Linked DNA regions of Homo sapiens: regions 2, 3 and 4 are each reported to be linked to region 1. Evidence: microRNA targets listed by miRTarBase, many of them from high-throughput screens and not tested one by one. Region 1 holds a microRNA gene; each other region holds the end of a gene's coding sequence.

Region 1 (7,123 bases):
GTAGAAAACAGGAGTCAGTTATTTTGGAGATATGTTAAATCAAATGACAAATGTTGATGCATTCTTTAACATTCTTAATTTTTCAAAACCTGCTCTTTAATCTCAAAATTTTTCAAAATATCACTAACAATTTCCTGTAGGCTAGATCTTGGCTTGGTTATATGATCAATGCATAAAGAATTTTTAAAAAGCAGCTTGAGAATAACAATCTATATTAAAAATCAATATAAATCCAAATTACATATATAAAATAAAAATATAATTTATATAAATAAAAAGTTGAAATAAAGACTAAATAGGCATATTCTGTTGCACAGTGAAAAATAAAATTTATAAAGTTAATGGCTGGGCGTGGTGGCTCACACCTGTAATCTCAGCACTTTGGGAGGTCAAGGCAGGTGGTCCATTTGAGGTCAAGAGTTTGAGACCAGCCTGGCTAACATGGCGAAAACCTGTCTCTACTAAAAATACAAAAATTAGCCAGGTGCAGTGGCATGCGCCTGTAGTCCCGGCTACATGGAAGGCTGAGCTGAGATCGCACCACTGCACTCCAGCCTGGGCAACAGAGCAAGACTCCATCTTGAAAAGCAAAAAACAAACAAAACAAAAAACAAAAAAAGTTAACAGTGACATTTACTGAAGTCAGCCAATGAATAAAAGGACTAGAGTAGTATTGTTTTTATATAGCAAATCAAAAGTAAAATAAAGTATGTCTGTCATGCTCCTGAATTTCCTTGGGTCCGAACTTAAGAGAACCCAGATAATTATACCACTAGGCTCTGGAAGTACTAGAAAGCCACAGTTGAGAGGGACGCTATTCCCTTGTTTATTTATGTATTTATTTAGAGACAGAGTCTCACTCTGTCACCCAGGCTGGTGTGCCGTGGCACAATCTCGGCTCACTGCAACCTCTGCCTCCCGGGTTCATGCGATTCTCGTGCCTCAGCCTCCCAAGTAGCTAGCATTACAGGTGTATGCCACCATGCCACGCTGATATTTGTATTTTAGTAGAGATAGGGTTAGGCCATGTTGGCCAGGCTGATCTTGAACTCCTGGCCTCTAGTGATCCGCCTACCTCGGCCTCCCAAAGTGCTGGGATTACTGGCAGGAGCCACTGTGCCCAGCCCATTCCCTTGTTTTAAAACAGACACTCATGACTTGGAAATGGATTTACATACTGAATGAACAGTGACACACTCCTGTTCCCTGACCCCACGAAGTGGCAAAGTAGGACTACAAGGCCCAATCCAGAGGCTCTGGTCATTTATCCAGCTTATGAATATTTACTGAATACTTGTACTGTGCCAGGTGTTATGATAGGTGTTTGGGGGAACAACATTAATTCTAAAAGGGAAACACACAGGTGACTTCAATACCCATCTGGTTGGCATTAAGATAGAGGTAAGTAAAGCCACCCTGAACTCCCAGATTGGGTACTCGGAGAACAGGCTGCGGCCCAACCTGGGGGGGTTCAGTGACTTCCTGGAGACAATGGCAGAGTTGAGTCCTAATGCGTTAGTCATCTGTAAAGAATAAGAAGAACCTTCTAAGCAGGGGAACAACATGAGTCCTGTGGCACGAAACAGCATGATGTGGCCAGAAACCAAAAACAATCTGCTCCTCCTGAAACCTAACTTTTGAAGTAGAGTGGTGGAGATGAGGCTGGTGAACAATGCAGGGACTCAGTGTGGGAAACCCAGGAGTTTGAACTTGAATCTCCAGTATAAACAAATTGTAGGTGGTAGAGTGCCTTGGTCAGACCTGCATTTAAGACAGATCAGGGGCCAGGCTCGGTGGCTCATGACTGTAATCCCAAATCAGGCTGGCTTCTCTGAGACAGATGGAGTCATGGAAACCAGTTAAGATGCTACTGCAGCTGTCCAGGTAAAAGCCATGAGCCTGAACATGATGCAGTACCAGGGATAGAAATGGAGGGGGTGTGGACAGCAAATTTAAGAACTGTTTTTAAGAGCTAAAATCAGAAACATTACATGATTTATTAATAATCACTCCCTTTCTTAATATCCTTTGATAGCTCTACTACTGCCTGCATACAACCTATAGCCAATAGGACTCGCAGTGGGTGGGTGGTGGCAGAGGTGGTAAAAGAGAGGTGCTGAAGATGATTTTCAGTCAGAAGGAAAGAGCTGAGAGGGCGATCAGAGGAAGAAAAGAACTTTTTCCACTGCTACAACCTCCCAGAATCCCTTCCTCTGTCTTTCCTAGAGCTGAAGACCTTCACCACAGTGAAATAACTAGAAATCAGCAACATTCCTTTGTCCTTGGGCTAGAACAGGGGTGAGCAATCTGCTCCACAGCTTGTTTTTATAACCAAAGTTTTGTTGGAACATGGCTGTAGCCATTTGTTTATGTATCATCATCCATGGCTGCTTCTTGCTAAAATGACAGTGTAGTTGTGACAGAAATCATATGGCTCACAAAGCCTAAAACATATACTGTCTGGCACTTTATAGAAAAAGTTTGCCAACTCCTGAGCTAGAAAATTGATGGGAAAGGTTTAAGAAAAGATTCATCGGACCCCAAATCTCCACATCCAGAGCCCTTGGAAATCCAACAAGGCTAGTAGACTTAAAAAACAAATCAGTCATTCAGATGAGGCCTTGGCGTAGAACTCTTTAACCTAACTGCTACTAAAGCCAAACTGAAATGCTCTTAGGAAAAGGATGTTTTGGTGATGAGGGAAAGTAAGGGAGATTTAGAGCATCGGCACCACTTGGTGGGTTTTTAGACAGTCTTGCTTGTTTGTTTCTGGACAGATGGAGAATGGCTTCACTGATAAATTCCATTGCAATGTCACTGGGGGCTAAGGCTGCACTTCCTCCCCAAAGCCCAACATTCTTCATTCAACTGGACTCATTCTTGCTTCCTGAAATGCTCAGAGTGACAATGTGGAGAATGAAACCCTGATGACTGGGCTCTGTGACAACTCATAGGAAAATCGGGGGGTGGAATATTTTATGGGAAATGGCCCAACACCAGCAGTAGGAAGCAAACAGAAGGTGAGAACAGACTAGACCTATGTATGGCAGTGGCAATTAATAAATACAACAGTTATACCATAATACATTTATTTCATTTGTCTTATAACGCATAATTATTTCTTCTTTTTTCAATTCAGGTAGTTTGAGCTGTTTCCTGGTTTAGAGTCTTATCAGTCAAACCTAACACACTTTCTCGTTTTATGACTGCTGTATTAGGGTTCTCCAGAGAAAAAGAACCAATAGGATACACCTCCCTCTTGAAAGATTCATCAGAAGCTATTTGCTCTGTGATTATGGAGGCTGAGGAGTCCCATCATCTGCCCTCTGCAAGCTGGAGACCCAGGAAAGCTGGTGTTGCAGATCAAAGGGCTGAGAGCAGAGAGCTGATGGTGTAGATACCAGTCCAAGTCTGAAGGTCTGAGAACCAGGAGTGCTGAGGGCACAAGATTCATAGCCCAGCTCAAGATTGAATTCAAAGAGTGAATTCAATCTTCCTCTGCCACTTTGTTCTATTTAGGCCCTGAATGGATTGGATGATGCTCACCCAACTGGACCCATATCTACTTTACTCCGTTCACCAATTCAAAATGCTAACCTCTTTCAGAAACACCCACACAGACACTCCAATAAAATATTTAACTAGATATGTAGGAATCCTGTATCTTAGTCAAGTTGACATGAAATTAACCATCACAACTACATAATAAAAACCAGTGATAATCAGCATATCAGTAATTATGCAAAATAGTTAGATTCACCTTACCATAGACAACAACCTATTGATGGCTACTGCCCGCTGCTGGGCTTCTATATGAGGCATTTCATTCTGAATTACTTGGTCTGTGATTCCATGAGGGAACTGGTGACATAATTCTATAATCCTAGAAACAAAGGTATTAATGTTATCCTTCATGGTTACCTGTTTCAAGAGACAGTGGGGGTAAAAATACAAGTAGAATAGTTTGAAACTGTGCCTTTTTCACATTTGGCAGACAATCTGGGTTTCTGTGATGGTTTTGGATCAAAGCATGTTAGAAATTGAAGAAGATGATTTCTAAATACATGTTTACAGTATTATTGTTATTTAAGAATATTTCTTTTCCTCACTAATAAGAACTTTAAATTAGAGCAAAAGTCTAATGAAATCACAGAAAAAATATTAAAGCTGAGACTTCAGTTTTCTCGGGTGTAATAAGCATGACAAAGTTAAGCCATAAATCTGCAAGCAGGAGGCAAATGCAGATGTTTCTGGTAGGAAGCCAAAATTTGTTATGACAATTCACCATAATGGGGCCTGTTTTTGGAATTATACCTACCAAACAAAAAAAGTCAAAATCTTCACCTAGTCGACATCAACAAATGTATTATTCCTAACAGTCTGAGAAAGTTGAGTCTTTTAAAACTACGTGAAAATCTAAGAGTGGCAGTGCCTCGGTAAAATATAAAACTGGGCCGGGCGCGGTGGCTCACGCCTGTAATCCCAGCACTTTGGGAGGCCGAGGCGGGCGGATCACGAGGTCAGGAGATCGAGACCATCCCAGACAACATGGTGAAACCCCGTCTCTACTAAAACATAAAAAATTAGCTGGGCGTGGTGGCGCGAGCCTGTAGTCCCAGCTACTCGGGAGGCTAAGGCAGGGGAATCGCTTGAACCCGGGAGGCGGAGATTGCAGTGAACCGAGATCGCGCCACTGCACTCCAGCCTGGCGACAGAGCGAGACTCTGTCTCACAAACAAACAAATAAAAATAAAAGTGGCAGAGGCTTTGGGTGTCCTAAAAGTCTTGAGTTCAATACTGCACTGAAACCACCTGGCTTAATGTTACTTCGTAATCACCAACTGCGCCCTAACTCCGCCTAAACGTTTTGTCATAGACGTTCCCTTAGTGACAAGAGCGATCCTGGATCAGAACATGTATTCACAAGTGTTCTACAGGGAAAGAAAGCCGAGGGCTCCTCTCAAAGCACTGATCGCGTCAAAGTAGGAAGGCAGCACGTCATCACAACTTCCCCAAAAGTATCAGGGCAAAGCCAGCCAGCTACACAAAGTTGCAAGCTGTCAAACCCATTTTGAACTTCTTGAGTTCTGCTCTCCCAGGATGGGAAGGAACAAGTGGGTCCAGAACCCCGCAATCGTTTTTCCCGCGTGCTCACCTAACCCGCTCCGGCCACTCCCAAGGGATCCCGGAGAAGGGGTCCAGCTGCCCAAATGACTGGGCGCCTGATGGAGTGCCAAGCCGGAGCCTCACTGGTTTACCTGTTTTCTATTTCGACCGGATCCGCGTCAGGCGGCTGCACCTTCACCTTCACCTCCGCCATGAGGGCGCAGTTCCTGACGCCTGGGGGGAAAGATGCACGGAGCAGCCCGGTAGCAAGCCGGGGAACCCGGGGAACCAGTGGAGGATAGCGCTCTGCTGAGGCCGAGGGGCCTTCTTCCTCGTGTCGCAGCCGGTCCTTCCTTGCCTTTCGGCGGGAGGTGGCCAAGCTGCGCCTGCTCCGGCCCACTTACAGGCGCCGCTACAGCTTCTTATTCTTGTTTTCCAGAATGTCAATGCCCATCGGACGCACAAGCCTGGTTCCTTCATTCTGAGTTGGGAAACCAACTTTTAGCACTTGGCAACTCTGTGAAGGAATATTCTTAGATGCCTATGGGAAAGCACTGGGAAAGGAACTCCAGGCGGGTACCAGGCTCCCTGCGGAGCGGCAGGGGCCGGTCTAGTTGCTAAGAAGCTGAGTCTCCACCAATCATCTGCCCAGCACCCAGTGGGCGGGGCGCGGCTCGCCGCGTCTGTGGTAACCCGGGCGGCGGCGAAGGAGGAGGCAAGAGGCGGTGAGAGGCTGGCGACTGGGTTGGGCGCGGCAGAGATGCATTAGGGGTCCCGATCCCGGGCCCCGCGGTTAGAGGAAGAGGAGGGCGGCTAGAGGAGGGGAAGAGCTTCCCTTACTCCAGCCGAAAGGATGCAGGTGTCCTTGGCAGCCCCTGATGGGCGGGAACAACCAAACGGGATTCCGGATCCGGGCTGCGAGGGGGCGGTCCACGTTGGGAGAGTTGAGGGGTCTGGGGATCCTGTTGACTGCACGTTGCCATTTGGGCCTGGCGGATCCGCCTTTTTTCTTGATTCCCTTTGCGTGGGGCCCACTGGCCACCCCAGCTTCCTAAGGGCAGCTGCTAGTTGACGCTCGCGAATTACTTCCTCTCCTACATATTTTTTATTTAGAATTTTTCAACTACTTTTATTTTATCTGCCTTTCACTTAAATGGAAATGCGACTATGGGCAAGTCTCAAGTCCAGCCACACTCCCGTAGGAGCTATTGTTGTGCTGTCAGTATCTGTAGTTTATATTCTTGGCCCTAGATCCGGAACTATCCAACAAGGCATTAAGTTCACCCCTTAAATTTAGGTACCCCATTTTTGAGAATACAGTCTGTGACAAAGCTCAAACTGCAGACATGTTCAGATCAGCATTATTAGAACTGCAACAGGCAAAACTAAAAAGAAACTAGAAATAGCCTAAATGCCCAGCCACAAATGGATAAATAAGTACAGGGAAAACTAAATAATACAGTGAGAATGCAAGAAGTAGACTATAAAAATGGAATGAATATGTAGATTATAATTGGGCAAAATCTATGGATTATTAATGAAATTTGAAAAGGCAATACAGAGATGTAAATGGTTGTTGTGTTAAGGTGAGCGTTTTTTCCCCCTGAAACCTTCTGTGCATTAATTATGACAACCTTCCTCCCCACCCTCACCTCCAAAAAGACCAGTAAGGCTTTCATACTGGTAGTTAATTATTAATACCAGGATTTATAAATACAGTAGATGAAACGGGAGGCTTGTGTTTATTGGTCACTGTTTATATTCTTGCAAACTTCCTTTCCACTGAGAAGTAGTACTCTGCAGTCCTTCTAAAGTGTCTTTGCAGCTTTCAAATACTAGAACTGCTCTGGTGATAATGGCAAGGCTGTGAACCCGGAGCTTTCCCAAAAAAGTTAGCTCTAACTAACATTTTGTGGTACACACAGAATTACTTCTGTTCCCCTTGTATGATGACTTGCCCTGAAGCCAAGAGAGCTGACACACACCAGAGGCAGGAAAAGGCGATAATGATTTACAG
Region 2 (7,123 bases), not on the chromosome of region 1:
AACTATAAGGCTCTAGTCACCAAAACAGCATGGTACTGGTATAAAAATAGGCACATAGACCAAAAGAAGAGTGAACCCAGAAATAAACCCAAATACAGCCAACTGATCTTCAACAAAGCAAACAAAAACATAATGTGGGAAAGGACACCCTTTTCAACAAATGGTGCTGGGATAATTGGCTAGCCACATGTAGGAGAATGAAACTGGATCCTCATTTCTCACCTTATATGAAAATCAACTCAAGATGAAATAAGGACTTAAACCTAAGACCTGAAACTATAAAAATTTTGCATGATAACCTTGGAAAAACCCTTCTAGGCATTGGCTAGGCAAAAATTTCATGACCAAAAGCAAACGCAGTAAAAACAAAGATAAATAGCTGGGACCTAATTAAACTAAAGAGGTTTTGCATGGCAAATGAAACAGTCAGCGGAGTAAACAGAGAACTCACAGAGTGGGAGAAAATCTTCACAATCTATACATCTGCCAAAGGACTAATATCCAGAATCTACAGTGAACTCAAACGAATCAGTCAGAAAAAAAAAAAAAAAAAAAATCCCATCAAAAAGTGGGCCAAAGACATGAATAGACAATTCTCAAAAGATATACAAATGGCTAACAAACATTTAAAAAGTTCAACATCACTAATGATAAGGGAAATGCAAATCAAAACCACAATGCCATACCACCTTATTCCTGCAAGAATGGCCATAATCAAAATATCGAAAAACTGTAGATGTTGGCGTGGATGCAGTGATCAGGGAACACTTCTACACTTCTAGTGGAAATCTAAACTAGTACAGCCGCTATGGAAAAAAGTGGGGAGATTCCTTAATGAACTAAAAGTAGAACTACCATTTGATCCAGCAATCTCACCACTGGGTATCTACCCACAGGAAAAGAAGTCATTATTTGAAATATAGACCAATGGAACAGAGAACCCAGAAATAAACCCAAATACTGATTATTTGAAAAAGAAACTTGAACATCCATATTTCCAGCAGCACAATTCACAATTTTGAACTCGTGGAACCAACCAAAATGCCCATCAATCAACAAACAGATAAAGAAACTATGACATATACATATATGTTGGAATACTACTCACCACAAAAAGAAATTAACAGCATTTGCAATGACCTGGATGATATTGGAGACTATTATTCTAAGTGAAGTAACTGAGGAATGGAAAACCAAACATCATATGTTCTTGCTGATATGTGGGAGGTAAGATATGAGAATGCAAAGGTATAAGAATGATAAAATAGACTTTGGAGACTTGGGGGGGAAGAGTGGGAAGGGGGAGGGATAAAAGACAACATATATGGTGCAGTATATACTGCTCAGGTGATGGGTCCATCAGGGTCTCACAAATCACCACTAAAGAACTTAACTCATCTAACCAAACACCACCTGTACCCCAATAAATGGAACAATGAAATTAAAAAAAAAATCATTCTTATACTTACAGACCAGCTCACATAATGAATATTTCATAAACTATTACACACAGGCCAGGCACGGTGGCTCACACCTGTAATCCCAGTATTTTGGGAGGCTGATGTGGGTGGATCACCTTAGGTCAGAAGTTTAAGACCAGCCTGACCAACATAGCAAAATCCTGTCTCTACTAAAAATACAAAAATTAGCTGGGCTGGTGGCGGGAACCTGTAATCCCAGCTACTTGGGAGGCTGAGGCAGGGGAACTGCTTGAACCTGAAAGGCAGAGATTGCAATGAGCCAACATCACACCATTGCACTCCAGTCTGGGCAACAGAGCAAGACTCCAGCTCAAAAAAAAAAAAAAGGAAAAAAAAAAGAAAAAAAAACTATTAAACGAACAAACAAAATTATGGTTCTAACATGAGTAACAGTCAAGTTAAAACAGAGAATTTGCATGGGGAGATTCTGAAGCATAAGCCAAAAGGTTATACAGTAATAAATTTAATACAAAGTACAGAGGATAGATTTACTTTCAGTAATTTTGAGAATTTTGGTTTTTTTCTAGTAAATTAGACACCTTCTTAAAATGATTTATTTTGTTCCAATATTACTTTTTTTTGGCTAAAAATAGTTTCAAACTTACACTAACACAAACACACTCCATAATTTATTTACATCTAAGATTATATATCACATGCCTGTATCAAAATATGCCATATATGGCATAAGCATATACACATATTACATATCCACAAAAATTAAGAAAAATAAATTTAAATGTAAAAATAAGAATAAAATTTAACCTATAGGAACAACATTCTTTAACTTATTGGCAATTTAAAGCCACTGACAAAAAGATTACTAGAGATGTCAGTCCATTATCTTACCAAATAGTGTATTGTTACCATCTTTTACCTACACCATTGAGTAAGGTGGAATAGGTTAAAGTTAGTGGCATAATGCTTCAATGAATTCATGATAGTATTTAACATGTTAAAAATGCTGAATTGAAAAGTTAAGTTCACACATAATTTAAAAATATACTGTATATTATTCCATAAAAGTACAGTAACATACTACTAACTTAATGTTAACTAAAGAATGTTTTTCAAGTGCTCAATGGTGCCCAGGCTGGAGTGCAGTGGCGTGATCTCGGCTTGCTACAACCTCCACCTCCCAGCAGCCTGCCTTGGCCTCCCAAAGTGCCGAGATTGCAGCCTCTGCCCGGCCACCACCCCATCTGGGAAGTGAGGAGCGTCTCTACCTGGCCGCCCATCGTCTGGGATGTGAGGAGCCCCTCTGCCTGGCTGCCCAGTCTGGAAAGTGAGGAGCATCTCTGCCCGGCCGCCATCCCATCTAGGAAGTGAGGAGCGCCTCTTCCCGGCCGCCATCCCATCTGGGAAGTGAGGAGCGTCTCTGCCCGGCTGCCCATCGTCTGAGATGTGGGGAGCACCTCTGCCCTGCCACCCTGTCCGGGATGTGAGGAGCGTCTCTGCCCGGCCGCCCCGTCTGAGAAGTGAGGAGCCCCTCTGCCTGGCAACCGCCCCGTCTGAGAAGTGAGGAGCCCCTCTGCCCGGCAGCCACCCCGTCTGAGAAGTGAGGAGCCCCTCCGCCCAGCAGCCACCCCATCTGGGAAGTGAGGAGGGTCTCCGCCCGCTAGCCACCTCGTCCGGAAGGGAGGTGGGGGGGTCAGCCCCCCGCCCGGCCAGCCGCCCCGGCTGGGAGGGAGGTGGGGGTCAGCCCCCTGCCCGGCCAGCCGCCCCGTCCGGGAGGGAGGTGGAGGGGTCAGCCACCCACCCGGCCAGCCACCCTGTCTGGGAGGGAGGTGGGGGGGTCAGCCCCCCCGCCCGGCCAGCCGCCCCGGCCGGGAGGGAGGTGGGGGGGGTCAGCCCCCCGCCCGGCCAGCCGCCCCGTTCGGGAGGTGAGGGGCGCCTCTGCCCAGCCGCCCCTACTGGGAAGTGAGGAGCCCCTCTGCCCGGCCACCACCCCGTCTGGGAGGTGTACCCAACAGCTCATTGAGAACGGGCCATGATGACAATGGCGGTTTTGTGGAATAGAAAGGGGGGACAGGTGGGGAAAAGATTGAGAAATCGGATGGTTGCCGTGTCTGTGTAGAAAGAGGTAGACATGGGAGACTTTTCATTTTGTTCTGTACTAAGAAAAATTCTTCTGCCTTGGGATCCTGTTGATCTGTGACCTTAAAAAATAAATAAATAAAAAATAAATTAAAATAAAAATAAAAATCAAACTGCCATGAAAAAAAAAAAGTTTTTCTTTCATGATAATGCATAAAAATATTACTCTGAACACCTACCTCATGCATCACTCAACATTACAAGTTAACCCAAAGAGCCTCTCTACTTAAATTTTCATCATGTATCTTACATTTTAATGTCCTTACCTTTCCATAGAAAAAGTCATAAAGGCCTACCTAATAAAAAAGAATCTCTCATATCTTTAATGCAGCTACAATTAGTCACATGTTTTCACATGTGAATACACCAGGAATGATGGAACAGCATGAAGTAATTTAAGAGTTTAACTCCATTATTTGCTTTTTTAAAATTCTGTATTTTCAAAAAAAAGTTATACTTTGATTGTAATTATAACTCTCCAAAAAATATTCTTCTTTTAAAGTTATATACAAATAATGTTTACACGAACTTTAGTTTGTATTATTTCCTATACTCAGCACTGATTTAGTGTAATGTCTAAAGTTTGAGTGCCCTAAATATTTCTACTGTGAATTATTCCCTGATATTTACATAGACTTAATTTTGGATTGAACATCTTTCATATTTAATGCATCTGCAAAAATATATTTTAGTATGAACGCTTTGGTGTTTCATAATTTGTAGTTTTTGAAAAAATGTTTTTCCAAATTCATTACATTTGCAGGGTTTTCTTCAATATAAACTCCCTGATGTTGAACAAAATTTTAATAACTGCCTCAGGGTTTTCCTCTAGTACAAAATGTGTACAATAAGATCTGTGAGACAAGTAAATGTATTACAACCCTCTTCATATTTGTAATGCTTTTTCAAAATAAATATGCTTCTGCACTTTAAAGACATATTTTCTGATCTTTTGACGGTAATTAGATTTTTAATGCTTTTATTCAGTATGAACTCTGATTTTGAGTAAGATGTGAGCAGGTATTAATGGCTTTTTTGCTTTGTCTATATTTGTACATTTGTTCTCAAATATAAATGCTTACCGGTGCAATAAGCTATGAGCATTGGTTAGAAGCTTGGCCACATTGTTCACATTGGTAGTTTTTTCCAGTATAAATGATCTTACATACAATGAAGTGCAACAATCATTTAAAGGCTTTGTCACATTCTTCACATTTCTAGGATTTGTCAGCAGCATGATTTTGTTTAGAAAAGTTTGAGATGCTGTCAAAGGCACTGGGCACATCTTTCAGATTTGTAGAGTTTCTCTTCAGTATGAATAATCTTATATCTGTTAAGAATTGAGGACTTTTTTAGGCTTTCCATATTATTCACACTTGTAAGATTTCTCTCCAATATGAGTTATCTTATCTGTAGTAAGATGTGAGGACTGGTTAAAGGCTTTGCCAATTTTTTCCCATTTGTAGGGTTGCTGTCCAGCATGAATTTTCTTATGTCTAGTTAGGGCTGAGGACCAGAAAAACACTTTGCCACATTCTTCACATTTGTAGAGTTTTACTCCAGTATGAATTACCTTATGTTTAATAAAAGTTGAAGACAGGTTAAAAGATTTCCCACATTCCATGGGAAACCTGCCCCTGTGATTCAGTTACCTCCCACTGGGTCTCTCCCCACAACATGTGGGGATTCAAGACGAGATTTGCGTGGGGTTACAGCCAAACTGTATCACCAGCCTTGCCCCTGGGCAGAAGCAGCAGCAGTCTGCCTGGCTGGATTCAAATGATTCTGAGACTTCTATAGTCTATGCCTCCAGATCTCTCCCTCACCCATGCTATGGTGTCTGAAATTCCACCATTAGAGAGTCATTTCTTGGCCTCTGTTAAAGGGACCAGGCTCTTTATAAAGCAAATGCCCCTAAGCAGCTGGCTCTGGCTTTATCAGGTATCTTTTCCCTGCCAGAAGGAAGGAAGCTAAGGTGCATCTGGGCATACTGTGTGCCCAGGCACTGTGCCAGATGCTTTGGATACTTGGAGTCATTGAATTCTGGTAGTAACTCTGTGAGAGAGGGAGCCTTTTCCCCACATTGCAGAAAAAGGAAAAAGAGCTCAGAGAGATCAAGAAATATCCCTGAGATCACATGGCTCCTAGTGGAGTCAGGATCCAAACCCGGTGTGTCTGATTCCTTAGCCCTTGGGGGTCCGGAGGCTGCTGAACAAGAGAGGAGCTGGAGAGGAGAGAAAGCCACAGGAATACCACTGTACACCCTTCTTGATTCTAGAAAGACTGTATGAAAATTCTGAACAGTGAACAGAATAAACAATAAAGGTGCAATGGAAAAAAAAGAAAGATTTCCCACATTCTTCAGACTTGCAGGGTTTCTTTCCAGTTTGAATTATCTTATGGTTACTCAGGATTGAAGACTGCTTAAAGGCTTTGACACATTTTTCACATTTGTAGGGTTTCTCTTCAGTATGAATTACTTTATGTTCAGTAACAGTTGAGGAACATTTAAAGGCTTTGCCACATTCCTCACATTTGTAAGGTTTCTCTCCAGTGTGCATCCTCTTATGTCTACTTAGGGGTGTGGACCATATGCTTTGCCACATTTTTCACATTTGTAGGGTTTATTTCCAGTATGAATTATCTTATGTGTAGTAAGATTTGAGAATGATTAAAAGCTTTCCCACATTCTTCACACTTGTAAGGTTTCTCTCCAGTGTGAATTATCTAATGTTTAGTAAGATTTGAGGATTAAAAGCTTTTTCACATTCTTCACATTTGTAGGGTTTCTCTCCAGTGTGCATCCTCTTATGTTTAGCGTTGAGGACCATATAAATGCTTTGCCACATTCTTTACCCTTTTTAAGGTTTCTCTCAAGTATGAATCCTCTTATGCTTAAAAAGGGTTGAGGACCAGATAAATGATTTGCCACATTCGTCACACTTGTAAGGTTTCTCTCCAGTATGAATTATCTTATGCGTACTAAGATTTGAGGATCGATTAAACGCTTTTCCACATTCTTCACACTTGTAAGGTTTCTCTCCAGTATGAATTATCTTATGTGTACTAAGATTTGAGGATTGATTAAAAGTTTTGCCACATTCTTCACATTTGTAGGGTTTCTCTCCAGTGTGAATCCTCTTATGTTTAGATAGGGTCGAGGACAATATAAATGCTTTGCCACATTCTTCACATTTGTAGGGTTTCTCTCCAGTATGAATTATCTTATGTGCAGTAAGGGTTGAGGACTGGCTAAAAGCTTTGCCACATTCTTCACATTTGTAGGGTTTCTCTCCAGTGTGCATCCTCTTATGTGTAGTTAGGGCTGAGGATCGGCTAAATGCTTTACTACATTCTTCACATTTGTAGGGTTTCTCTCTAGTATGAATTTTCTTATGTTCAGTAAGGTTTGAGGACCATATAAACGCTTTGCCGCATTCTTCACACTTGTAAGGTTTCTCTCCAGTATGAATTATCTTATGTTTAGTAAGATTTGAGGATCGATGAAAAGCTTTGCCACATTCTTCACATTTGTAGGGTTTCTC
Region 3 (7,123 bases), not on the chromosome of region 1:
TGGAAATTGTAGGAACGAGGCTGCCCCTCCCGTGGAGGTCCACGTGTTCCCTTGGACGCCAGGTGTTCTCAGAGGACGGAGGCAGGTCCTTGTCCTAGGTCAGAGGGCAGAGTCACTGGCCTGAAATTGAGTATTTTGGAACAAGAGCTCAGAGTCCAAATCTCACGGAAGTAGCCATGAGGTCCGTCAGACAAACGGGGATCTAGATGGGCAGCGGGAATCTGCACTGTTTCCATTTTCCATGTGGGGTCTGGGGAGGGCGCCTCCGGCCCGCCACTCTGCTGTTTCTCAGGCCTAATGCAGGGTTATTGATGGAGGCCACCCAAGTGACACACAGGGAACCAGGTCCTCACTGGGAAGAAGGGAGCCAGGGGCTTGTCAGAGGCAGAGAGAGGCCGCTGCCCACACAGGCAAACAAAGCCTACAGCCTCGAGGTTGGCGGGAAGGGCAGCTCTCAGGGGCCAGGCTGCCAGGGAAGTTGTCCGTCTGGCAGGGATTTGCAAACATACCCTCCCTTCACCGCCTTTCAATGCCTATCTCAGACATGGCTCCAGCTAACACCAGCACCCATTTCGTGAACATTTACCATGTGTCAGGCCCAGGCTAAGCCCTCTAGATTAATTCACAGCCACCCGAAGATTTTGAAATTCTCATTCTTGTTTCACAAATGAGGACACTAAGGCTCAGAATGAGGGTGGCTCTGGGGCTCTGCACTCAGGGGCTGTTACTTCGTTTTGTCTGCTGAAATAAGCCAGACCTGGCCAGGAGACACCTCAGGGCTCTGAGGAGGAGAACCGAGCCCACACTTCAAGCGAGGAAGAGCGTACCAGAGAGCTCTGTGACAGATGGAGCTCACGTGGCTACACCCGACACCCCAGGCCCCTTTAAAATAAGCCAGATTCCACAGCCTCTTTTTGGCCAGGGGGCCCTGCTCCTCTGTGTATGGGGTCTGGGGCAGATCCAGTAACCCCCATTGTGGGCGCTGAAGGGCTGTGTACAGGGAACGGGCCCAGCTGCAGGTGTCGGAAGTCCCACGACGGGGGTCAGGGGTTCATATGGGTGTTTCTGTGAAGGAAGGGTGGCGGAGGGAGAGCCTGCTGGGCAGAGCTCTGTGGGCCCAGGAGGGGATATGCCTCTCAGAGAACTACTTGGGTTTGGAGGTTGCCACATCCCAGGAAAAGTTCTAGGATCAGAGACACTCATCAGAGGCCCTGGTGGTTCCTCAGAGGCTGGGATCAATGAACAATTGGAGGCTGGCAGCAAAGGAGAGGACAGCTTCATGCCTGTTATGCCACAGGTCCCCAGAAGGGTGTAGGGAGAGAGGCAGCTGTCAGGATGGCTCTCATTCTTGGACCGGCACAGCTTTTTGTGTTATAACTGGTAGCCTCAAATCTCCATCTTGATTCTGGACCTGAAAGCAGAGCCCTGCTCGTGGCGGTCAGGGTAGAGTGCATGCACAGCAACAGCCCGATAAGCAAAGATTCTGGAACTAAGCCAGATGGTCCAGCTGAGAAGGCAGGCGCAGCTTGGGTTCCCTGGAGGTGGTGGCCATGGTCAAAGAGGACAGGCTCTTTTGGGGATGGACCAGGACGTGAGGTGGGACATGTTATGGACCTGAGGCAGATGTGACTTGATCTTAACTCTGTGGGGCAGAAAATCCTGCACAAGGGGGTGGCCCAGGGATTGAAAGATGAGTTGGTTCCCTTCTAGCTGTGACTGGAGTCCCATTTTCATGCCTCTGAAATCATTTCTACCTTTAGGAGCAAAATTTCTGCCACTGAAGTATGCAGCTAGGTGTTGGCTTTCTCATTAATAGAGGGATTGCAGTACACTAGCACTGCCTTTTTACCTTGCGCTCATCCTCCTCTTGTCAGCCTGACGCTCAGGCTCTCAGAGTCCAGCTGCTTTGGCGTTAGTGGGAAGTGCAACTGTCTGTCGCTCAGGAAACCGAGACTCTGTGTAAGAAGCACCGTCTGTATGCAGCAGACTTTGACCCTGGGATCTTATTCAAGAGGGTGTCAGAGCAGCCACAGGGTTTTGCACCTGAGTACAGACAATGGGGTCTGGAGAACCCCCCAGCCAAGGAGACCCTGGCAGAGTCAGGGACTTCAGCCTTATGGTGACACCACTGTCTCTACCTACCAGGATGAGTCCAATGCCCCAGAGATCTGGTTTTTCTGTGCTGCCTGGCAGCCTGGTTGGGAGTGAGAAGGAAACAGGTGTGTGTGTGTGTGTGTGTGTGTGTGTGTGTGTGTGTGTGTGTGTGTGTGTGATAATGGGGAAGGGTGGAGTGTGGGGAGGGGTGGTCGATTTTTCTAGAGGTACATCCTGCCCAACGAACCCCCAAACCAAGGAGCCACACAGAGTTAGCTGGATTGAAGTGGGTTCAAGTCATTTATTTTTAGACTGTACCAGCATGTTTGGTTCTGGGGTCCAATCCCCAAATTCCAGAAAAATAAACTAAAGAGAACCACATGCACTAAGAGGAGGCCATTCCGATGAGTCCGTGATCATGCGGTGAGTGGGCTTAGAGTATAGAACAGGGACCCCTGGTATGGAGCAGGGCCTTCCCTCCCCAGACAGCTGACAGCAGCTGGCTCTGAGCCCTCATCGGGGCTGGGGAGAGGGCCAAGTCCTGGTCATTTGGACCCTGTCCCCGTATAGACCCGGGCCCTTTATTGCTACATTTGCTACTTTGCTACTTTATGGCCCCTGGGTCTAGCCCAGGGGATGCCTTATCACTGGGTGGTACTAATGAGTAGGTTGCTGGCATCTGCTGTTGCTATGGTTACACGAGCACAGGCCTCTCTTCAGAGGGTCCCATGGTGAGTTATTAGTGATTCGTCTGGCCACTATTCAACTTATCCCATGGTCTTTGCTACATATTCAACTTGGGCAGCTCCTTTTTGAGGCTGGTGGTGCATTATCTCCCCCCGAGCCCAGAGTTTCCCAGCTCCTGGACCTTGCAGCAACACCTCCCTCCAATACATTCTGCAGGGCCCAAAGGAAGAGAGCCCTTAATCCTTTCCCTCTTCTGGGAAGGCTTTCCTGGTGGTGGTTTTTGAAGCACATGTATATGGAGCAGAACAGGAGGGATGCATTTTAGGAAAAACATCACCTTCCACAATCACCAAGGGGGCCAGTTGGGTGGCAGGCTCCTGGTTCAGCGTCCTGTTGGTGAGGTAGTTTGAAATCCCAGGAATCCTGCCAGGGAAGAAGCCCCTGGAGCATGTCCCCATGTGTTCAGCTAGTCCAAGCTGCAACTCAGAGTCGCAAGAGGTCCCTCCCAGGATGCTGGCCCGGTACCTGACCACTTAGCGGTGGTGAGCCTGGAGCGCAGGCCCAGCTGACTGCACTGGCAGTTGGGCCCTGCTTTGTTCCTGGGGTATAGCAACACCTTCCCAGGAGAACAAAGCTGACGCATCACTTTCTAGAAGGGCAGGAGGCTCCTCCCCAGCCCAGAGAGTTCCTGCTGCTTAGTTCAGGCCATCTGGCTGCGGCTGGACGTTTATATGTGCCAGCCTACAAGCTTTCCTCTTCCCATGTAGGGAAAGGTTATTTTAGTCAGATGCCAGTGCCTGGTGCCTTGTGTGTCTAACCCGACGGGTGGGTGGTCACTTGCTGCAGCTGCCCTGATGCTGTGGTTGTGGGGCTGCCAAGATGTGGCTGGAGAGCACTTTTCCTCATAGGGAGGAGTCCTAGGCCCAGAGACCACACCCAGTCAGGGAGGCTAAGGCAGCTTCTAGGGGGAAGGGACGGGGTAGGGGAATTTGCTTTGCTACAGAATTGCCTGCAAACATCTAATCTAGTCTGAATTTTTGGCTGTGTAGACCAGGCCAATGGGGGACGGGCCAAGACCAGATTTTCCAAATGTACTTGCATGACCAAGTTCTGCGTGGTAGATGGACCTTGGATAGGCAGCCTCGTTCCACTCCCTTCTTGCAAAGCTTCTGGCTTGATCTACTGGGGAACATGAGTGCCTTAGCTGTGGGGTGGTGTGAGAGTATTATTGCTCTGGGTTTGAGTCCATCTGAAGTCTCCCTAGCTCCGTTGTGCTTACTGACCCTCCCCTCTGGATGTCCCCAGAGGTGCTTGTAAGCCTGCAGCCAGCTCCATCTCAGGGCCACAGTCCACCTGGCTCTGGTCAGATCCTCTGGGGATCTCCAGGGTGAGACCAGTCAGAAGGAGAAGGGGGCACAGAGGGAATGGCCAAGAAGCCAACCCTGCCCTGTCTGCAGCCTGGCTTAGAAAGCCCCTGCATCATGGGGAGGAGCAGGGGGCAGCCAGGCCCCTTGCCCTGGATAACTGAGGGCACTGAGGTGCCTGCTGCTTGGGAACACCCTTTGCCCTATGCCTAGGGGTCAGCACAGCCCGGGGATCCTTGGGCAAGGCTGGGGGCAAATGAACTTAGACTGTAATTTTGTTCTGAAACATGAGGTTTATACAAAGAGAAAGAGGATGAAAGGGGCCTGTCAAAAGACCCCATAACTTGGAATGGGGCTTTATGCCATTGATTTACTCATCAAGTGGTTAGTGCCTCCAAAGTACCAGCCTCTGTGCTGAGCATGTGCAGGTGTCCAGCAAGAATTGCTGCCTCTGAGACACTGAGGACTCAACATCTGTCATCTCTCTGGTTTCCACTGTACCTCCAAGAGAGGAACCATTGCCAGTGGGGGAAACTTGGGCATGGTAGTCAAGAACTCACAAGGATACAACATAACGAAGACTCCTAATGCCCGCGATGGCACTGCTGTGAGGGACAGAAGGCTGGTGCCCTGGGGACAGGGCTGTGTGGAAGCAGACATAGACAGGACTTGGAGGTGGTGGGGTGGAAAGATGGGTCACTGGGGAGCACCCAGGAGGCCGGGTCTGCAAATAAGCAAGCATCTGAGCCTTTGGTCACCAGCTGGCGAATTTGGCTGCATGAGAAAAGAAATACCAGCGATCGCTTTATTGCTTCTATGTTTTTTGTTTATATGCTCCCAAGAGAGATTTTTTTTTTTACCTATGACCAAAAATAGATCAAAGGAGGGTAGTCATAGCAAGTGGGGGAGTGAATGTCTGGATTCAAAACAGGTTACTTAATACAGCTCTGTCTGTGGGCTCATGGGTGTCACAATAACAATGACAATGATGATAGTATTAGCTACCGTTTGCTAAGCACCTACTGCGTATCAGGCACCTGACTCGGTGCTTTACATACATTACCTCACAGCCAGGTTGGCAAATGGTCATTTTGACACACACACACAGGGAATACAGGTGGATCTTTTGCAGGTTTTTGCATTTCCCCTAGGTGACCGGTTTAGAGGGGTGCTTTGGCTGGGCCTTCAGATAAAGACTGGGAGGAGAGCCCTGTGGCCTGGCCTGGTCCCTTCGTAGCATACTCTGCCCCAGCTTCACACACAAAGGAGACCTGACCCAGCAAGGGTCTCACTGTGCCTGTCAGGATGCCACCACGTGGGGGCTGCCAGCCCTGCAATCCAGCCACCTCCTGGGCTGGGGACCCTCCCAGCTCCCACCTGGGGCTGCCAGAGGGGAGAATCCCAATGGCCCCTGAGTTCATGGCCATGTTTATTTTGAGTAAAACATGAGGGAATAAACCAAGGAGCAAGGGGGCAAAGCCAGAATAAATTATGAAATAATTTTCTAAAAGATGGTCAGCAGAATCCCCGCAGCTGTGAAACAAAAAGCTCTGTCATCTACAACAGTGCTTCCTCGAACGCTGGACCCTTGAGACATGTGACGGGACCTGAGGGCAGCCACCGGGCTGGCGGGGACCTCTCCGAACGCTGATCTCAAAGAGGGTGGAAAGACCTTGAGGCGGGGCAATCCGTGAGGTTGCTTTCTTGCTGAAGATGTGATTTGGACATTTTACGTGAAAGCAGTGCCTGGTGCTGGCAGTGACACCCGGGTGGCCACAGAGACGTGAGGGATGACAGGCGGCGGTGGGGATGTAGTGGCTGTAACTATGGGAGGTGCCAGGGAGGTGATGCAAATGCTGGATGTGCTCTCGGTCCACTCATGCCTCTTGAATTTGCCAGAAGGTGTGACCGTCTCCAGACAGCGAGGGAGTGAGGATAATAATATAATCTCAAGTGATAGTCGTGACAGGAACCCCACGACGTGTTCTCCCCTGAATGAGCTGGGATCAGGGCCTCTTAGCGAGTGGAGTGTTGGAATACAACTGTACAAAGAAGAGAGGGCTGTAAACAGGAGCCTCCACCGGGCCCAGCCCAGGCTCTGTGGACTCTTTCTTTCTGGTCTCCCCATTCACCCACCGAGTCTCCCCACCATCGCCCTTCATTGCCCTCACTCTTTCTCCTTCACAGTGACCAAGTCTCCTCGTAAGGAAACTCTGTCCGCAGATGTGGAGCGCCGCCGCCTGCCTGTGGGGTCCGCGGGCCCAGGCCCTGGACCTGCGGTAGGAACGGTCAGGAGGACTGCATCAGGCCCGTGAGGCGCTTGCCCGCCAGCGACTTTCCCTGCAGAGAGACAGCGACAGAGAGGCACGCACAGGCGCACACACAGAGGGACAGAGACAGAGAGCCAGACAGGTGAATTAATTGTTGCATGAGCCATGTAGGCCAAACGACCAACCAACCCAACTGACCATCTTGATATTTGATCTCTAGGTGTATGGGAGCCTTAACTTTGGACAGCTGGAGAAACCAGGGCTCCAGGGAAGGTTCAGGGAGTCCTGGAGGGTCCCCTTATGAGGGTGTGTTGTTGGTACTCTTTTTGTGGTATGGGAATTTTACTTACCAAAAACCAGGTATTTAAACCTTTAGGTAGAGCAATTTTTAATGCCGGCGGGCTGCCCTGAAATTGATTTTGTTCACGTGGGGGAGGAAAAGGTGGACTTGGGGTGTTCTGAGATCAGGGACGGGGGCTTGACTCAAATAGAGGGTGGCCAAGGATCTGGCTGATCAGAAGCTAATGAATGAACTAGTCTTAAGAAGGCAGAGTCCTGTTTGGAATGCAGGGTAGACACAAAGACCTTGAGTCCTCTTGATGACCAGTTCTGGGACCATGAAAGTGGGGGGCATTTGCTGGGGCTCAGAGCCACTGTAGGCCCCAGGGCAGTGCACTCCTGCTGTCTCCTATGTTCTTGGCTTCCCAT
Region 4 (7,123 bases), not on the chromosome of region 1:
TGATCTCGATCTCCTGATGTCTTGATCTGCCTGCCTCGGCCTCCAAAAGTGCTGGGATTACAGGCGTGAGCCACCACGCCCGGCCAACTACATCCTTTTTAATTTTTGTGAGTACATAGTAGGTATATATGTTTATGGAGTACATGAGATACTTTGATACAGACTTGCAATGTGTAATAATGACATCATGGAAAATAGGGTATCTATCCTCTCAGGCATTTATCCTTTGTGTTATAAACAATCCAGTTATATTCTTTAAGTTATTTTTAAATATACAATTAAATTATTTTGACTATAATCACCCTGTTGTGCTATCAAATACTAGGTCTTCAGCTACATCTTTTTTATTTTTACTGATTGCTAGAGGTTACAACATGCATCCGAATTTATTACAATCTAATAATCATTAATATGAAATTATTTTAGATAAAAGAACCTTGAAATAATATCATTCCATTTATTCTTATCATTATTATATGTTTTACATCTACAGATGTTATAACTCAACAATATAGTGTCATAATTTTTACTTTAAATAGTCATAGGTATTTTAAGTAATTTAAGAGAAGAAAAGAAATATAGTCCTTTATATTTACCCACTAAGATTTCTCATGTCATATTCCTTCCTGTAAATGCAAGGTGCCACCCTGTGTCCTTTCCCTTCAGTCTGAAAAACTTCCTTTGGCATTTTTGACGATGCAGGTCTGCTGGCAATTTATTCTCTCAGTTTTCATTTATCTGAAAATGTCCTTGTTCACCTTTATTTTTTGGAGATTAATTTTTTTGGATATGGAATTTTGTGTTAATAATTGTTTTTTCTCTGTTAGCACTTTGAATATGTCACTTAGATTTTTTTTTTTTTTTTTTTTTTTTTTTTTTTTTTTGGAGATGGGGTCTCGCTCTGTCACTCAGACTGGAGTGCAGTGGTGCGATCTGGGCTCACTGCAACCTCCGCTTCCTGGGTTCAAGCGATTCTCCTGCCTCAGCCTCCTGAGTAGCTGGGATTACAGGTGCACTCCACCATGCCTGGCTAATTTTTTTTATTTTTAGTAGAGACGGGGTTTCACCATGTTGGTCAGGCTGGTCTTGAACTCCTGACCTTGTGATCCACCCACCTTGGCCTCCCAAAGTGCTGGGATTACAGGCGTGAGCCACTGCGCCTGGTCGTCACTCAGATTTTTTCTGGTTGCCATTGTGTCTGATGAGAAGTCAATCAATAATATCATTATATCGTAATATGTAATTTGTTTCCCCACCTTCTAGTGACTGTTTTCAATATTTTTAAAGCAGTTTGACTATCTAGTCTTTGATAACTTCCATGTTATCAAAGATTTATCTGAGATTTATCCCATATATTTCCTGCCCTAGACCTGAAATCATTCATATCTCTAAGGAGCCTTGGATCGTTTTATAGGGGAATGACATTGAGAGACTAGAATCTGGGTGCTAGGGTACATGTTATTATTGGTTGTTTGTTGCATCTAGGCCTTTCCAGTGGATAGATTAAGGAAATACTATTACTGATTTTAAAATAAATATAATACTCTCAAATTAGGAATGTGGAACAGGAAGGTGGCTAGAACATGTGTTCAGTCTGTGGTTTTGACTTAATTCCTAAAATTTTACTTAAAAAGTACTATGATTTGAATGTTTGTGGCCACCTAAAATTCATGTTGGGAAGCTAATCATCAATGTGATGCTATTAGGAGGTGAGGCCTTTGGGAGGTGATTTCATTATGAGAATGGAGCCCTCGTGAATGGGGTTAGTGTTCCTTTATAAAGTGGCTCCAGAGAGTGGCCTGGCCCCTTTTGCCATGTGAGGACACAGTTTGAAGATGCCTTCTGTGAAGGTGAAAGTGGGACCTCAGAAGACACCGAAATAGCTGGCGCCTTGCCCAGCTTCCAGAACTGTGAGAAATAAATTTCTGTTGTTTATAAGCCAGCATTTTATTATATTTTGTTATAGCAGCCCAAATAGTTTCTGTAATAGTTGTGCTTTTTCTTTATAGTGAACATATACTGTACTTTTATAATCAGAATGAAACAATATAAAATAATGGAATATCTATGCAATAGATTAATAAACCAAAGAAATGAGTGCACAATTTATAAAATAGAACAAATCTGTGTTAAATTTCTTTGGTGTGATGATGGTGTTGTGATTATGTCACTGTTCTTAGGAGATACATGCTGAAGTATTAGGGATGAAGTAACATGATGCCAGCAATTTACTTTCAAATTTTTCAACCAGAAAACAAAAGAGAGAGAGTTTGTGTGTGTATAATATGTCTGTGTAAGTCTGTGTGTGTTTGTGTTTGGAGAGAGAGAGTATGAGTGTAAACGGCAAAATGTTAATATTTGGGGGAAAAAGGTAAAGTATATACAGGTAATCATAGTACTATTTTTCAACTTTCAGTAGGTTTGAAATTTTTCAAAATAGTTGGGGTAAAATAATGTTTAATAAAGGTTTGTAAAAATACCCATTATAGTAACTGAAAAAGGTAGGATTTCATGGCAGCTGTCTTTACATAATAGGGTTATGGATGATTTTCTTTTCATTCTTCTGAGACAGGGTCTGGCTCTGTCACCCAGGCTGGAGTGCAGTGGCATGATCTCAGCTCACTGCATCCTCTACCTCCTGGGCTCAAGCATCCTCCCACCTCCGCCTCCGCAGTAACTGGGACTACAGGCATACCACCACACCTGGCTAATTTAATTCTTTTTGTAGAGATGGGGTTTTGCCATGTTTCCCAGGCTGGTCTCGAACTCCTGGGCTCAAGCAATCTGTCCCCACCTCAGCCTCCCAAGGATTACAGGTGTAAGCCATCACGCTCAGCTGATGATTTTCTTTCTACTTGTCGGTGCTTTCTCAATTTTATTTATGTATTTATTTATTTTTGAGACAGGTTCTCACTCTGTTGCCCAGGCTGGAGTGTAGTGGTGTGATCACGGCTCACTGCAGCCTTGAACTCCTGGGCTCAGGTGATTCTCCTACCTCAGCCTCCCAGGTAGATAGGACTACAGGCGCATGCCAACATGCCTGACTAATTTTTGCATTTTTTGTAGAGACGAGGTTTCACCCAGGAGTCTCAAACTCCTGGGCTCAAGCTATCTGTCTGCCTTGGCCTCCCAAAGTGCTGGGATTATAGGCATGAGCCACCATGCTTGGCCCTTTCTCAGTTTAAATAATAAGGATATAATATTTGGGGAATTATGAAAATTATTTTTAAAATAGCATATTTTAAAATTTGAATTTATAAGCAGAAAAGGATCCTTTGTTTCAGTAATTTTGGGGGATGATATATGAGACATCCAATAGGATAGTGATCTTTGTAATGAGAAAGAGTGTGTGAATGATAGATGGGATATTAATATAATAATAGAAACCTGTTACTGGCATCTTTCAAATGTTAAGAATTTCATATACTCAACTTTTGTAGTCATCACAACAATGTTGTAAATAGGTATTAATAATTATCTAAACTTTTATAGATACTAAATAACAGAGTGAAAATGGAAACAAAGGCCAAGCAACTTGGTGCATGTATGTTATTCCAGTACCTTGGGAGGCTGAGGTGGGTGGATGGCTGGAGGCCAGAAGTTTAAGACCATCCTGGTCAATATAGTGAGACTCCATCTCTATGAAAAATTTAAAAATTAGTTGAGCATGGTGGTCTGGGCCCTATAGTCCTAGCTACTTGGGAGGCTGAGGCCAGAGGATTTCTTGAGCCCAGGAGTGAGCTATGATCATGCCACAGCACCCTAGGCAGCCTGAGTGACAGAGCCTCTTAAAAAAAAAAAAAAAAAAAAAAAGGACACAATGTTAAAACAAAAGTTGAAACAAAGTCTGTCTTAGATTTCCAAAGTTTATACTCTGGTAGTTTCTTGTGATAGAGAGAAATTTTATAATTGGATTCCAGCTGGCTGACATAGTAAACTAAGCTGGGCAAAAAGATAAATAGCAGATAATAGCTCTCCCCGATCAGAAATGTAATCTAATCTGTCATGAGATTAGAATTAAAAGGAGGAAAAAAAAAAAAAAGAATAGAATTGTAAACCTAGGCTGGGAGTGGTGGCTCACCCCTGTAATCCCAGCACTTTGGGAGGCTGAGGTGGGCAGATCACTTGAGCCCAGGAGTTCAAGATCAGCCTAGGCAGCATGGTAAAACCCTGTCTCTACAAAAAATGCAAAAACAGTTGGATGTGGTGGGGTACACCTGTAGTCTCAGCTATGCAGGAGGCTGGGGTGGGAGGGTTGCTTGAGCCCAGGAGATTGAAGCTGCAGGGAGCAATGATTGTGCCATTGCACTCTAGCCTGGGCAACAGAGAGACTCCACCTCCAAAATAAATACATAGATAAGAAACGTAAACCTAAAGAGTAATTAGAAGATGCCTTTAAAGTGAAAAGCAAAGGTTTCTCCTCTAATTCTGGCAGTACATTTTAGAAGAATTTCTTTTTATTAACATTCAGAGCTTTCAAGTGAATCTGAGTGATATTCAGGTAGTATAAATAGGAAAAGACTAGTGCATCATGCTAATTGCTATATAAGCATTACCATCTGTGAGACCTTGTCGATGGATAAACTAGGAGCTCTTTCAAGAAAGAACAACCAACATTCCATCAGTGTTGCTTCGTCTATAAAAAGCATAGTCATATATTCCTTGAGTGGGATAGATAACCCCAATATTAAACCAATAAACAATATCCCAATATTAGCAATATTAACCCAATATTAAATGTTAATATTAAACAACATTAACCCAATATTAAACCAATAAACAATAATCCCAGTGTCAAACCAGTAATGAAAGAAATTAATACATGGGATATTCATGCTTAATTTCATTTAAATCCTGAAATTAGGTTGACACAAAACAACAACAAAGAACACTTGGTTTTAGATGTTGAATGTAAAAAGAAGGATAAGAAAATAACTATTTCTCCTTTGCTAAATGGATTCTCCTAAGTTCAAGGGAAATGAGAGTTGACTAATAGTAGATATAATTCAATCAACATTTTCTTTTGTTTCATTTTTTGTGTGTGTATGATACAGAGTCCAGCTCTGTCGCCCAAGCTGCAGTGGTGCAATCTTGGCTCACTGCAACCTCCACCTCTCGGGTTCAAGCAATTCTCGTGCCTCAGCCTCCCAAGTAGCTGGGATTACAGGCATGCACCACCATGCCTCGCTAATTTTTGTATTTATAGTAGAGACAGGGTTTCACCATGTTGGCCAAGCTGATCTTGAACTCCTGACCTAAGTGATTCTGCCCACCTCGGCCTCCCAAAGTGCTGGGATTACAGGTGAGAGCCACCATGCCTGGCCCTCATTTTCTTTTGTTTCTTTTAATTCATTTTATACATTAGTTATCATAAAGTTTATCCCAGGTTGGCGTCCCTCTTTTACCCGGCATGCTTTCCAGTTGCTGCTCACAGTTAATTCAGAGGCCCCATGGGATACAAAATTTTAGCATGGGCTTCAAGAAAATAAAGTTTAGAAAGTAGGTTATACTCCTGAAAAAAAGTCATAAATTTCTAAATAAAAAGTAAATTATTTGGGGGTGTGTATACCATAGCTCTCTTGGCAGAGGAAATGAAGTACTGATATTAAATAAATGGTTTTAATTAGAATTTAAATAACAGATAAATACTTGTTTCTCTAAATATACTTTGAGAATTGGAAACAAGATTATAATTTAAAAAAATCATACAAACATTTTTTAGAATAAAATCTAAGAAAGAATTTTTATTAATTTAACCAAATGACAGCTTTCATTTTAATTATAAACTATTATTTGGCATTTATACACATAAAATATATGTTTAACTGAATATTTTGTACAAACTCTATGAGTATTCCAGATACAGAATTATGATTATAAAATAATCAAGATATTTCAAGGAGACATGTGATTCAGTGCCAAAATTACAATTGTATATCTGTCACAATACTTATAGCCCATAAAATGTTCACATGAAATCTCTAATGTAGGCAATTAATTGCTAGAAGAATAAATGATGTTCATTATATAGAACATAGAAAGGGACACAATGCAAAATAAAGATATGAAAGCCTTCAGAATTTCTTTATGTTGTTGCTAGTAAGATGACAAAACATAAAGCTATGAGGATCTGGCCACGTAAAATATTTATAGTAAGTATGCCTTGAGTGCTTGCATGGAAGAAATGCTCTGTCAGCCACTTTTGGTAGAAGGATGGCCCAATATAGACACCAGGAAAACCTCTTCGACCACAGCCATGTCCGTAACTGGTAATTCCCATTACAAAAAATCTTTTATATTCTGGTAAGTAGCACATTAATGGTCCCCCACTGTCACCCTGTCAAAAAAGTCCCAAAATAGTGTTTGTTACTTCTAGTATTCTTCAAGCAACAGTAACACTGGAATAAATTATTTACATCAAACATACATTTATATAAATACACATTTTCAATATACCCCCAATTTATAAAGATCACTAGATTTTGAGCTTAAACTTCCAACTCAAACAGGAGGAATTCAATTTTACCCAGGTATTTGGAGGAACCATATAGCTGGTAGATAAATTTCTCATCTGCCTGGTTTTGAGCCAGAATACTATAAATCAAATTGTTTGGATTTTTAAATATAATTACTTAGGAGAAATATAATTTAGGAAGTGTGCAAAATATTGTCAAAACTGTCTATTATTAGAATATTCTCTTGCTGAATACTGCGTGTGGAAAGGATAACTTTAAGATGTATGAAGGATTCTTTTAGGCACGTGTGTGGTTTGCTTGCCAGGGAGAGGAGTAAACTGGCATCTTGCAATAGAAGACAAGTTTCTAAGTGTTGACAATAGCTAGTGCAGGAAAATGAGCATAAATGGCAAAGCCTCTCAGTAGTATTATAAATGACAGGTCACTTTCATAGTCTATACAAAATTAGGAATGCACCCAAATGCTGTTACTAAGGCCTGTTAATGCACTGAAAACAACAAGGACACTGAGATAACTGTTTCCGATTCTCTATATAAGGCAGGCATTGAATAATTATTTTTTGATGATGAGGATGTTTGGCCTAGGAATGCAATTCACTTAGATTGGATTCTTTACTATTTCATTCAGCAAGATTTTTAAGGAAAAGG

What was found. The annotated mature microRNA hsa-miR-3192-5p reads UCUGGGAGGUUGUAGCAGUGGAA and lies in region 1 at 2,181-2,203, opposite strand. An mRNA with a match to its seed (bases 2 to 7 or 8) in the 3' UTR can be bound and repressed. Matches are read on the target gene's strand: a 7mer-m8 pairs with bases 2 to 8, a 7mer-A1 pairs with bases 2 to 7 and ends in A, and an 8mer does both.
Region 2: miRTarBase lists ZNF726 as a target of hsa-miR-3192-5p. The part of its 3' UTR that is shown has no 7-base or 8-base seed match.
Region 3: miRTarBase lists RGS6 as a target of hsa-miR-3192-5p. Seed matches in the 3' UTR shown: 7mer-m8 at 5,342-5,348 and 7mer-A1 at 3,034-3,040.
Region 4: the mRNA of TMPRSS12 is a reported target of hsa-miR-3192-5p. The part of its 3' UTR that is shown has no 7-base or 8-base seed match.

The regions. Positions count from the first base shown.
Region 1 is chr20:18,465,704-18,472,826 of GRCh38, reverse strand. It overlaps MIR3192 (microRNA 3192), which reads right to left and starts at 2,212; the gene lies at 2,136-2,212. DZANK1 (double zinc ribbon and ankyrin repeat domains 1) reads left to right here and starts at 5,797. Exons shown (of 21, transcript NM_001367614.1): 1 at 5,797-5,831. POLR3F (RNA polymerase III subunit F) reads right to left here and starts at 5,437. Exons shown (of 9, transcript NM_006466.4): 1 at 5,259-5,437; 2 at 3,766-3,883. The coding sequence starts at 5,320. RefSeq lists enhancers at 5,357-5,676, 5,299-5,917.
Region 2 is chr19:23,933,296-23,940,418 of GRCh38, reverse strand. ZNF726 (zinc finger protein 726) reads right to left here. Exons shown (of 4, transcript NM_001244038.2): 4 at 5,935-7,123. The coding sequence ends at 6,452. Among named protein-coding and RNA genes, the nearest start is that of ZNF276-AS1, 21 kb to the left of the region's middle.
Region 3 is chr14:72,561,779-72,568,901 of GRCh38, reverse strand. RGS6 (regulator of G protein signaling 6) reads right to left here. Exons shown (of 18, transcript NM_001204424.2): 18 at 2,372-6,485. The coding sequence ends at 6,435. Among named protein-coding and RNA genes, the nearest start is that of MIR7843, 49 kb to the right of the region's middle.
Region 4 is chr12:50,886,476-50,893,598 of GRCh38, reverse strand. It overlaps TMPRSS12 (transmembrane serine protease 12), which reads right to left. Exons shown (of 5, transcript NM_182559.3): 5 at 5,715-6,337. The coding sequence ends at 6,086. Among named protein-coding and RNA genes, the nearest start is that of TMT1A, 35 kb to the left of the region's middle.